Homo sapiens: one gene and its partners. The protein of the gene in region 3 purifies or fractionates together with the protein of the main gene of each other region. This does not show direct contact. Each region holds a gene or a part of one and is shown on either strand. Other genes may lie near its edges. The genes, in order: ELF2, ACTR6 and NFATC2IP.

Region 1 (3,749 bases), on a different chromosome or scaffold from region 3:
TTAGTCACTAAAACAGTAGGTACAAATTGTTATCTGGTATTCTAGTACATACAGTAATGTTGCTCTGGCTTCCTTCTAATGTGCACAAATAACCAAGATATGACATTTCTATTTCAATTAAGAGATACAATTAATACATACTATCTTAGATTAATAGACTGACCAAAAATGCTACAAATTTATTCTCATATCTCTGAGTAATACACAGGATTCTATTCAAATTAAGAAGTATGGTTGCTCTTATTGTGAATCCCAATGAGAAGGTGAGCCAGTATTTTTGTATCAAGTCAAATTAACATTTGGGCATTAAATTAAAATTAGGACAAATCAGGATTGGACAAAATGACTATCAAAGTTTTTCTTAAAGACTAAGAGGGACCACAAAAAAATAAAAACTCACACTGAAGGATGTGTGAAAAAAATGTCAAAAGCTCCCTTGTCTCTCTACCATGTGTGGTTCTCTGGAGTTACTGCCTATTTATCATTGAATAAAGGATTGAAAGTGGTCCTAACAGGCAACTGCTCCCATCTATCATACTCTGAAGGACTATGAAGGCTTATAACTTGCCCAGAGTTAAGGAAATAGACATGACAGTACAAATAGCTATTTAATAAATATTTGTCTATCTATAGTGGGTATTTTCTGTATCATTTGTTATGAAAATTAAGTATTTAAGACTTGGAGGCCTTGACAAATAAAGTTCAATTACTGCTGTCATGTATTCATGTGTAATGTACCTTTGAGAATTCCCAACAATTCCATTGGATTAAAAAAACAAAAAACTTTATTTTAGACATATGAAGTAGTATGACACGTTTAACATAAGAATGAACAGTTTACATACCAGGACTTCTTGAATCCCTCAAGCAGGTAGGAGATTCCATATGAAGCAGGGCTTCAGCAGCTTCAATTGTCTTATCTGTACAGTGTGCATTACTGCTGTGAACTGATGCTTCCACTGGAGGAAAAATAAGTTCTACTCAATTAAAAATACACTAAACACATGACTAAAACATATTACTAAGAAATAAACATATTCACTCCTGAAAGAGAAATGAAAAATAAATAAATATAAAATAACATGACTAACTCTAAGCCATTGATATCTATTCGTCTATATAAATTACAGAAATAATTTTTAAAAAGCTAATATCTACATTTTATAAAATGAATACTGATATAAAATGAATATTGATTATGAAGTAACCAATGACATTGATTAGAAATTACTGAGAAGTTGGCCAGGCATGGTGGTTCATGCCTGTAATCCCAGCACTCTGGGAGGCCAAGGAGGGTAGACCTTGGTCAGGAGTTGAAGACCAGCCTGACCAACATGGTGAAACCCCGTCTCTACCAAAAAATAGAAAAATTAGCTGAGCGTGGTGGCACATGCCTGTAATCCCAGCTACTCAAGAGGCTGAGGCTGGAGAATCGCTTGAACCCAGGAGGTAGAGGTTGCAGTGAGCTGAGATCGCACCACTGCGCTCCAGCCTGGGCGACAGAGTGAGACTCTGTCTCAAAACAACAACAACAAAAGAAATTACTGAGAAGTTTCTGAATCTTACTCAAAGGAAAACAAAGAAAGATCCTTGAAATTTGAACCCTGCATCAATTTTAGGCCAATACTAACTTGTGGGAAGGGAGGAAGGGTCAGGGAGAGGCTGGTTGTAGATTAAAAACCCTGTGAGGGCAATTATATATTTTGATGTATTGCCATTAAAGCCAGGGCACCTAACAGAACCATGCTGCGCTAATTTAATCAATTAATTCAATTCTTACAGACCCTCTTGAATGACTGAGTAGAGTAAGCCCTCCGTGTCCAAGGGTTCCGCATCAGCAGAGTCAAACAACCTCAGATTGAAAATATTGCAGGGGGGCCGGGTGTGGTGGCTCACACCTGTAAGCACTTTGAGAGGCCAAGGCGTGCGGATCACGAGGTCAAGAGATCGAGACCATCCTGACAAACATGGTGAAACTCCATCTCTATCAAAAACATAAAAATTAGCCGGGCGTGGTGGCGGGCACCTGTAGTCCCAGCTACTCAGGAGGCTGAGGCAGGAGAATCGCTTGAACCTGGGAGGCGGAGGTTGCAGTGAGCCAAGATCACACCATTGCACTCCAGCCTGGGCGACAGAGTGAGACACTGTCTCAAAAAAAAAAAACAAAAAGAAAATATTGCAGGGGAGGGGGAGGCAATAAAAAAAATACAACAATTAAAAATACAGTGTAAATACTACAGCATTTTGTATAAGGGACTTGACTGAGCATTCTAGGATTTTGGTATCTGCCAGGTGGAGGAGACATCCTGGAACCAATACCCCAGGTATACTGAGGGACAACTGTACTCTCCAGGCAGAGGTGACTAAAGATGGATAACAACATGCATTATATTTACTGCCAGAGTACTTGAGAACTTTCTTTATAATTAACCTCGCTCTCTTCAGAGCCTCAGTGGGTTTTAACCTAAGACTTTTTCTTAGAGTTTATTCTTCCCATGAGGCCTTCAAATTCTACCACGCTTTGTATCTCTCCTCTTCTAGCACTTCCTTTATGCTTTGCTGATTATGTTACTTGTAAAACAATGTGTACAGCAGTCAGTGGTTTGGGCTTTCAGGTCCAACAGCTTGGGTTCCAGTCTCTGCCACTTATTTCTGTTACCTGAGGTAAGCAACTTAATCTCTCTCATAGAGCAAGAATATGATAATTTCTTATCATTCCTGTAAGATTATAAACTTCTTGAGGTCTGGGGGGCTAGCTTAACCCATCTTTACATATGCCATGGTTCCCAACATAGACTTTTCATGGAGCAGACATGCGGATTTTTATTTTTATTTTTTTTGAGACGGAGTCTCGCTCTGTTGCCCAGGCTGGAGTGCAGTGGCATGATCTAGCTCACTGCAACCTCCACCTCTCAGGTTCAAGCGATTCTTCTGCCTCAGCCTCCTGAGTAGCTGGGATTACAGGCACATGCCACCATACCGGATTAATTTTTGTATTTTAGTAGAGACGGGGTTTCACCATGTTGGCCAGGCTGGTTTTGAACTCCTGACCTCAGGTGATACACCCGCCTCGGCCTCTCAAAGTGCTGGGATTACAGGCATGAGCCATCACGCCAGGCAGGTATTTATTTTATGTACTGAATTAAGGACAACCCACTGACCTTACAAGAAAATCAGCAATTCAAGAACAAATTTTATTATCTTAATAATATATTAATTTCACATCCTGACTTAAAATGTTGAACAGTTAACTTAGTAAGACGTTCTGAAACATGAATATTTAAGAGTCTCTAACTTGACAGATTTTTTTTAAGATGTCCCCTAAAGGAACTAAAAGTAAATGTTTATACAAATTTCATAAAGTCATATTACAAATTCATAAGCACTATACACTAACGATATGAATCTTTTAAAATTGTTTCCAGGAAACTTTTAATTGGGGGAAAAAATCCAGTTCATCTCAAAGTTCCCTAAATGCTAAAGCCTCAGTCTTAAACAACAGTCATTTGGAAAGCATTTATTTTAAAAATCCAATGACTGTTTTACCACCTGTTGCACATCATCCACAAGGTACTGGGTCTCTCCAGTTGCTCTTTCCATTTATGGAAATCTGTTCAAAGCTAAATGGTTCCAGAGAGGCAGCCAAACCTCTAAGTAAATCTATCTTTAGGTGACCCTGCTTACTCTTATCTGCAGCTTCACTGAAGCAAAGGATTCAATCAGCCTGTGTAGCTCAACTTTAAGAAAAC
Region 2 (3,749 bases), on a different chromosome or scaffold from region 3:
CGCTTTGTCGCCCCAGGCTGGAGTGCAGTGGCGTGATCTCGGCTCACTGCAAGCTCCGCCTCCCAGGCCCACGCCATTCTCCCGCCTCAGCCTCCCAGGTAGCTGGGACTACAGGCGCCTGCCACTACGCCCGGCTAATTTTTGTATTTTTAGTAGAGACAGGGTTTCGCCGTGTTAGCCATGATGCTCTGGATCTCCTAACCTCGTGATCCACCCACCTGGGCCTCTTGCTGCTTGCCATGAGCTTACAATCTGGTTTGGAAGACAAACTAGAGCCATTATTAATTATACACACATGTATGCATACAAATGTGTCTGTATGTGTATACGAGATGACACTGGGATAATACTGTAAAAAAATGTTTTACACCTGCTTATTTCACTTATAATACTGTCAGCATTTTCTCTACATGTTTAAATGTTCTTTGAAGACATAATTTTAAGAAGCTTGAATTTGTTATCAGTCTCAGGTTGTATTTTGGTGTATTTAGCCAATATGCTATTCCTGATTATTTAGCTTCCTTCCCATTTTTTGGCTGCCTGTATACGATGACTATGAATAATACAAAGCACTTCTAATTAATTCTCTAGGTAATAACAGAATTGCTGTGTCATGGCCCGGTGCGGTGGCTCACACCTGTAATCCCAGCACTTTAGGAGGCTGAAGCAGGCAGATCACGAGGTCAGGAATTCCAGACCAGCATGGCCAAAATGGTGAAACCCCCGTCTCTACTAAAAATACAAAACTTAGCCAGGCGTGGTGGTGCGCAACTGTAGTCCCAGCTACTTGGGAGGCTGAGGCATGAGAATGGCTTGAACCCGGGAGGCAGAGGTTGCAGCGAGCCGAGATCGTGCCACTGCACTCCAGCCTGGACAAGAGAGCCAGACTCCCTCTCCAAAAAAAAAAAAAAAAATTGCTTTGTCAGCTGGGTGTAGGGCTCACGCCCCTAATACCAGCACTTTGGGAGGCCAACGCGGGTAGACTGCTTGAGGCCAGGGGCTCGAGACCGGCCTGGCCAACATGATGAAACCCCGTCTCTAACAAAAATACAAAAAATTCGCTGGGAGTGGTGGTGCACGCCTATAATCCCAGCTACTCTGGAGGCTGAGGCGGGAGAATCACTTGAATTCAGGCTGCAGTGAGCTGAGATCGCACCACGGCACTCCAGCCTCGGTGACAATGATAATGATACACATTGCCAAAACGTTTTCCAGAAAGATTGTAACAATTTACATTCCTACTCAGTTTGATTTCCCTCTTTCATTTCTGTTTCAAAAGAAATGAAAAAGAAGGAAAGGAGGGAGGAAGGAAAGAATTTTTTTTAATGCTCTGTTAATTTGATAAAGGAAAGGCGTGTCTTTAGGTTTGCTTATTTATTCAAACATATATTTTATGACTATACATGTTATGAATGCCATTGTATTAACAGTACTTCTGTTTAATTGACCTTACCAACTAGGTCGGCCAGTAGGCCAAAGTCTTCAAAGCCTCTAGATCCTAAGACCGTGATTTTTAGACTTTTGGAGGGTCATAGAACCCTTTGAGAATCTAATGAAACCTATAATCTTGTACCCAGGAAAATCCGCATACACCCAAACACCGTGCCCATAGTTTCCAAAGGCTGATGAACTTTACGGACCCTTCTGTCAGGAACGCATCTCTATAAGCCTATTTTCTTTGGCTATTTCCTGTTACGAAATAAAACATATATCCCACTTCCGGGGCCTCGCAGCCCAAAACTAAAACCAAAATCAATTTCAATTCAAAGCATCACAATCACCCACCCAGCTCCAACCAGGGAATCCCTCTGGCTAAGTCAGGGCCGCGCGGGGGTGTCTGCAGTTCATTGATGTCCGGAGATGAAACGTAGCACATGAAACCACTAGGCGTATATATCTTGTCCCTCGGAGAAAGAAAGTACTTACGACACATTTTCATGGCTGTAACCGATTTTGGCGTTGTAAGCTCCATTATCCAGCACTAAGGTCGTCATCTCACCACCAACCACACCGCAGCCGTAGTTGTTTTCCCTTTCCGACCCCTCTGCTCGAGCTTTTTCCGGTACTCTATGGTTTGTTGGGCGGAGCGTTAGGACGCGCCTCTGGTCACCTTAGCAACGGAGGACGCCGGAAGTCGGAGATGCTAAGCAGCACCGAATGTTAGGGGCTGTGCTTCCAAACTTAACCTGTTTATGTGGTGGCGAGATTTGACTACTATGTGCTTTCTCGCTCATTTCGTATTTGTTTTTAACTACGCAGATTAATTCGCGCAAGTTTTTTCTAATCCTGTAGAGAACCGGCTGCGTGTGTGTGTGTGTGTGTGTGTGTGTGTGTGTCTTCCAATCGCATTCTTCAGACGGTGACATTCTTTGAAGAAAAAAGTGCAAAACTTGCTCTTGGACTCACATTCATACTCTCCTCTTCCCCAGCCCACTTGCTCTTCAGGACGAAGCTGAGTGAGTCTTTCTCATCCAAAAAAGGCTTTTGGGCCGGACGCGGTGGCTCACGCCTGTAATCCCAGCACTTTAGGAGACCAAGGCAAGCAGATCACTTGAGGTCAGGAGCTTGAGACCAGCCTGACCAACACGGCGAAACCCCGTCTCTATTAAAAATACAAAAAGTAGCCGGGCGAGGTGGCGGGCGCCTGTAATCCCAAGTACTCGGGAGGCTGAGGCGGGAGAATTGCTTGAACCGGGGAGGCGGAGGTTGCAGTGAGCCGAGATGGCTCCACTACACTCCAGCCTGGGCGACAGAGCGAGACTCCGGCAGGGCGGGGACTTGGCAGGTGCGGGAGGCAGGACCTGGCTTCCGGGGCGTCGCGGGGGCAACGGCCAGCGGGCGGGGGCAAGGGCCAGCGGGCTAGGACAACTGCCAACGGGCTTGGAGGGGGGCGTTCTACAAATTCCAGGCCACTTTGAGCGCCTGAGAGAGGAGCGGGGCGGCGGGAAGGGGGCACCGCGGGGGCAGGGAGCGCAGCAGCCGCAGCGCGAAGGCGCGGGGGCCGGGGAACAAACGGTTGGCGCGCAGGCAGCCATACCGGGGCCGGAACCCGGGCAGAGGAGGGCAGCGACGGCGATGGGGAGGCTGCAGAGCCCGGGGCGGGTACCGCGCGGGAACCAGCGCGACTGCGTGGCTACCGCAGCCGTCGGTTCGTGTTGGACGGGCGCCGCTGCTGCCTCTGCTACTTCAAGAACCCCCACGACCCGCTGCCCCTCGGCCACCTGGACATAGCAGAAGCCTGCTTCAGCTACCAGCGCGCCGACGAGGCGGCGGAGCAGCCTGCGCACTTCCAGGTGCGCAGCGCGGGAGCCGCCACGGTGCTTGAGGTGGGAACTCGCGCCCTGCAAGCGCCTGGGCCCTTCTGTCGGCGCTCCTTGCCTCCCCTGGGGGCCTGCCCCATCCACCCTCCTTTCTCCAAGGCCTCCTCGCACCCTGCCAACGTCGGCCTGCCTTTCCCCACTTCTCCACATCCCGTCCTCGTTCCTATCTCCTCCCCTCCACCTGGGCTTAGGCCCGGGTGGCTGGGGCTACCCAGCCCAGTCTCCTTCCTCAGACACTTTGACCCATTATCTCCCTCTGCTCCTTCCCTCTGACCCCTCTCTAGTGTCTTCTCACCCCCAGCATCCCGTGGATGTCCGGTGCAGCCCTCCCAAGCATTCATAACCGTAGGCTTCTGCCCCAGGGGCCTCCTTTAGAACTCTGCTAGGACCTTGGTACATCAGTTAACCGCTCTGCCCTTCAGCGTCCTC
Region 3 (3,749 bases):
TTTTAAGAGACAAGGTCTTGCTCTCTCACCCAGGCTGCAGTGCAGTGGCATGATCACAGCTGACTGCAGCCCCCAACTCCTGGACTCAGAAGATCCTCTTGCATCAGCCTCCCAAGTCGCTGGGACTACAGGTATGTGCCACCATGCCTGGTTAATTTTTTTATTTTTAGTAGAGACAAGGTCTCACTATTTTGCCCAGGCTGGTCTCGAACTCCTGGCCTCAAGTGATCCTCTCACCTTGGCCTCCCAAAGTGCTGGGATTACAGGAATGAGCCACCATGCCTGGCCCCCATCTCTATGTTTAAAAAATAAAATAGGCCAGGCACGGTGGCTCATGCCTGTAATCCCAACACTTTGGGAAGCTGAGACAGGGGAACACTTGAGATCAGGAGTTCAAGACCAGCCTGGCCAATATGGTGAAGCCCTGCCTCCACTAAAAATACATAAATTAGTCGGGCATGGTGGCGGGCACCTGTAGTCCAAGCTACTCGGGAGGCTGAGGTGGGAGAATCGCCTGAACCTGGGAGGCGGAGGTTTCAGTGAGCAGAGATCGTGCCACTGCACTCCAGCCTAGGCGACAGAGTGAGACCCCGTCTCAAAAAATAAAAATAATAAAAAATAATAAAATAAAATAAAATAAGTCTACAAAGAAAGCAGACACACTGTTGGAAAAGCCATGGGCTGCCAGTTTGCAGCCTCTGCCTTAGTTGCTTGACTGATGCACTGTGCATCAGTAATGGTAATGTCTGTTATCATTCCTGGTGTTGAAACAGGGTCATCCCTACAAAAATATCAGGCTTCGCCAGGAAGCTGGTGGAGTTCAGGGTGACTGAGTGACATCTGCTGTGTCCAGGGCAGTGAGAGCAAGCCCAGGAGGGAAGCCCAGGTTCCTAGGGAGGAAGGCAAGAGAGACTACCAAAAAAAGCTTCTTAGAAGACAGGATGCTTCACACCTGGAATCCCAGCACTTTGGGAGGTCAATGAGGGACGATCACTTGAGCCCAGGAGTTCGGAACCAGCCTGGACACAGTAAGACCACTTTTTGAAGGAAAAAAAAAGACACAGGATGCTTATGAGGAGCCTTGAAGAATGGGTAGAAAGTTTGCCAGAAAGAGAGGGGAGCGTTGGGAAAATGCAGACAGAGGAAACAAAAAGTGTGAAGGCAGGACAGACTGAAAAGAATGATGGGCAGCTCTAGAGAGCAGGATGGGAAAAGGATGACAGTCCCTTCTGCCAGGACACCCCTGCTGGACACCACCATCTCTCCAGAAGCAGCTCCTGGGTCCTTCTCCCATGGGCCTCAGGCACTCACCATCCTGAGGGGCAATCTGACCAGGTCAGCCCGGCAACGGATTTTGAGTGGGAAGAGTCGGGGGGTCTCTGGGAGGGTGGGCCCTTCCACCAAGACCACTTCATCCTCTTGGCCCTGTTGCTCTTGACCCTGAGGTGGCTTGGGGCTCAGACAGGAACGGAGATCCTGGAGGCGCTTGTTCACCTCACTGCAGTGCAGACAGGACTCTGGGTCAACTGGAGTCAGCCACCCTCCCGGATTGCCCTCTTCCATCCCAGCCAGAGCCCCTGCACTTGGCACCTTAACTTCTTGAGTGCCCGAGTATGCGTTCTGCTTTTGGTCCTTGGTGAAGGTGGGGACAGAGGAGAGTTGTCCAGATCCCTGTAGAAGCAAGAGACAGCAGGACGGAGGCAATGGAGAGAGACTGGCCCCACAAATCCTAGAAATCAGATCCTTGGACAATCAAGCATAGTCGGACGCAATGGCTCACACCTGTAATCCCAGCACTTTTGGAGGCTGAGCCAGGAGGATCGCTCGAGCCCAGGAGTCCAAGACCAGGCTGGGCAAGATGGGGAGACCCTATTTCTACATAATTAGCCAGGCATAGTAGAACACAGCTGTAGTCCCAGCTACTCAGGAGGCTGAGGTGGGAGGGTCGCTTGAACCCAGGAATTTGAGGCTGCAGTAAGCTATGATCACGCCACTGCACTCCAGCCTGGGCAATGGAGTGAGGCCCTATCTCTAAAAATGTAAAAATACATTTAAAAAATAAAGAGGAAGCAGCTTCCAATAACCCCCATTTCACTGGAAGGCAGGGGTAGGGGAGAGGGAAAGCCTGAGGCATCATTTTTATATTTACATGACCTGAATATTAGGGAAGAAAATGCCTCATTTTTGAGACTGTCACTTCCCAGGAAAATGTCCAATAATATCCGACAGACGGCAAGCACTTACCATATGTCCAGTGTTGCCCAGGCTGGTCTTGAACTCCTGGGCTCAAGTGATTCACTCCCCTTGGCGTCCCAAAGTGCTGGGATTACAGGCAAGAGCCATTGTGCCTAGCCAAGTGTTAACTCTTGATTGACTCAGCAATTCATTGACACAAATGCCACTATTATCCCCAGGTTTGGGGGTATTTTTTGTCTGTCTGTTTGTTTGCTTTTTAGAGACAGGGTCTCACTCTGTCACCCAGGCTGGAGTATAGTGGCACGATCATGGCTCACTGCAGCCTCTAACTCCTGGGATCAAGCGATTTTCCCATCTCAGCCTCCCGAGCAGCTGGGATCACAGGCATGCGCCACCATGCCAGGCTAATTTTTTTTTATTTTTTGTAGAGACAGGGTCTCTCTATGTTTCCCAGGCTATAAAACGGGGTTTTATAGATGAAGAAAGAGAAGCACAGAGAGGACAGGGAAGCTGGATTGGAACCATACCTTAAGCTCACATTACTAGGGTCTCAGAATCCACTCCCAAGGGTGATCCTGAAGGGTTCACTGTCACCCTCCGGGGTAAGCCACCTCTTTTCCCCAAGCGATTCATTCCCCACATGAAACTCAACAGTCCTTCTATCCCTTCTTCTTAACCTTTCAGGAGTCACCCAAGAGTCCTGCCTGCCTCCGCTTACCCCTCCAACTCACTTCCTGCTCCCAGGGCCCAAGGGCCCTGGCCTCACTCACAGAAACTCTGTCTTTTTCTTCTCTTCTTTATCCTTAGTCCTCAGCTTTGTCTTCCAGGGAGAGCCTGGTGATGGGGAGCCCTCATGGTAGAGACCACTCGAATCTGCCAGCTCTGCCTCTGGGGGCAGAGGAAGAGAAGGTAGAAGGGGGTTATCCAAGGGAGGCCAGCGAAGGCCAAGAAGAAACAAGTCAGAGGCTTCAAGAAGGTCCTAGGAAAGGAGGAGACCACGGAGCCCCTGGCACACACAGGGCCACATGATAATATTGGGAAAGGGGGCAGGGGATGAGACTGCTATTTAGTATAAAGATAGCTCATATTAACTTAAAATTAACTTAAATTTCTCATGAAAGGAAACCAGGTATTATTTTCTATAATATAGAAATTTCTATTTGCCCGCTGTCAATAAAAGATCATCACAAACCACAAAAATAAATACTGTGAAAATTAAAAAATGATAAGAAACCCTAGATCAGTGGCTCTGAACCAGGGACAATTTTGCCTCTGCGGGGACATATAGCAATGTTTAGAGACAATATTGGTTATCAAAATGTGGAGGGCGAGGGGGCTGAGGTATAATACTTCCCAGGGATGGAAGTCAGGATGCCGCTAAACTTTCTACAATGCACAGGACAGTTTCCAACACCAAAGAATTTTCCAGTCCAAAAAATGCCAGTAATGCTGAAGTCATGAAATCCTGTCCTAACTAACTATGGCAGCTGCAAGAGGCCTATGATTCTGCATTTCGTTTTTCTTTTTTTTTTTTTGAGACCAGGTCCTACTGT

The links.
Region 1: the proteins of NFATC2IP (region 3) and ELF2 purify together in Homo sapiens (affinity purification with mass spectrometry; 2 studies listed by BioGRID and IntAct, with this or other methods). This does not show direct contact.
Region 2: the proteins of NFATC2IP (region 3) and ACTR6 purify together in Homo sapiens (affinity purification with mass spectrometry; 2 studies listed by BioGRID and IntAct, with this or other methods). This does not show direct contact.

Annotation. Positions count from the first base shown.
Region 1 is NC_000004.12:139,072,609-139,076,357, forward strand, and holds part of ELF2 (ETS-related transcription factor Elf-2), read right to left. Parts: intron 960-3,749; coding exon 846-959; intron 1-845. UniProt on the Homo sapiens protein: Isoform 1 transcriptionally activates the LYN and BLK promoters and acts synergistically with RUNX1 to transactivate the BLK promoter. Isoform 2 may function in repression of RUNX1-mediated transactivation.
Region 2 is NC_000012.12:100,199,097-100,202,845, reverse strand, and holds the start of ACTR6 (actin-related protein 6), read right to left. Parts: upstream 2,032-3,749; 5' UTR 1,995-2,031; coding exon 1,927-1,994; exon of another isoform or gene 1,786-1,926; intron 1-1,785. UniProt on the Homo sapiens protein: Required for formation and/or maintenance of proper nucleolar structure and function. Plays a dual role in the regulation of ribosomal DNA (rDNA) transcription.
Region 3 is NC_000016.10:28,953,900-28,957,648, reverse strand, and holds part of NFATC2IP (NFATC2-interacting protein), read right to left. Parts: exon of another isoform or gene 3,085-3,749; coding exon 2,967-3,084; exon of another isoform or gene 2,651-2,966; intron 1,672-2,650; coding exon 1,591-1,671; intron 1,499-1,590; coding exon 1,312-1,498; intron 1-1,311. UniProt on the Homo sapiens protein: In T-helper 2 (Th2) cells, regulates the magnitude of NFAT-driven transcription of a specific subset of cytokine genes, including IL3, IL4, IL5 and IL13, but not IL2.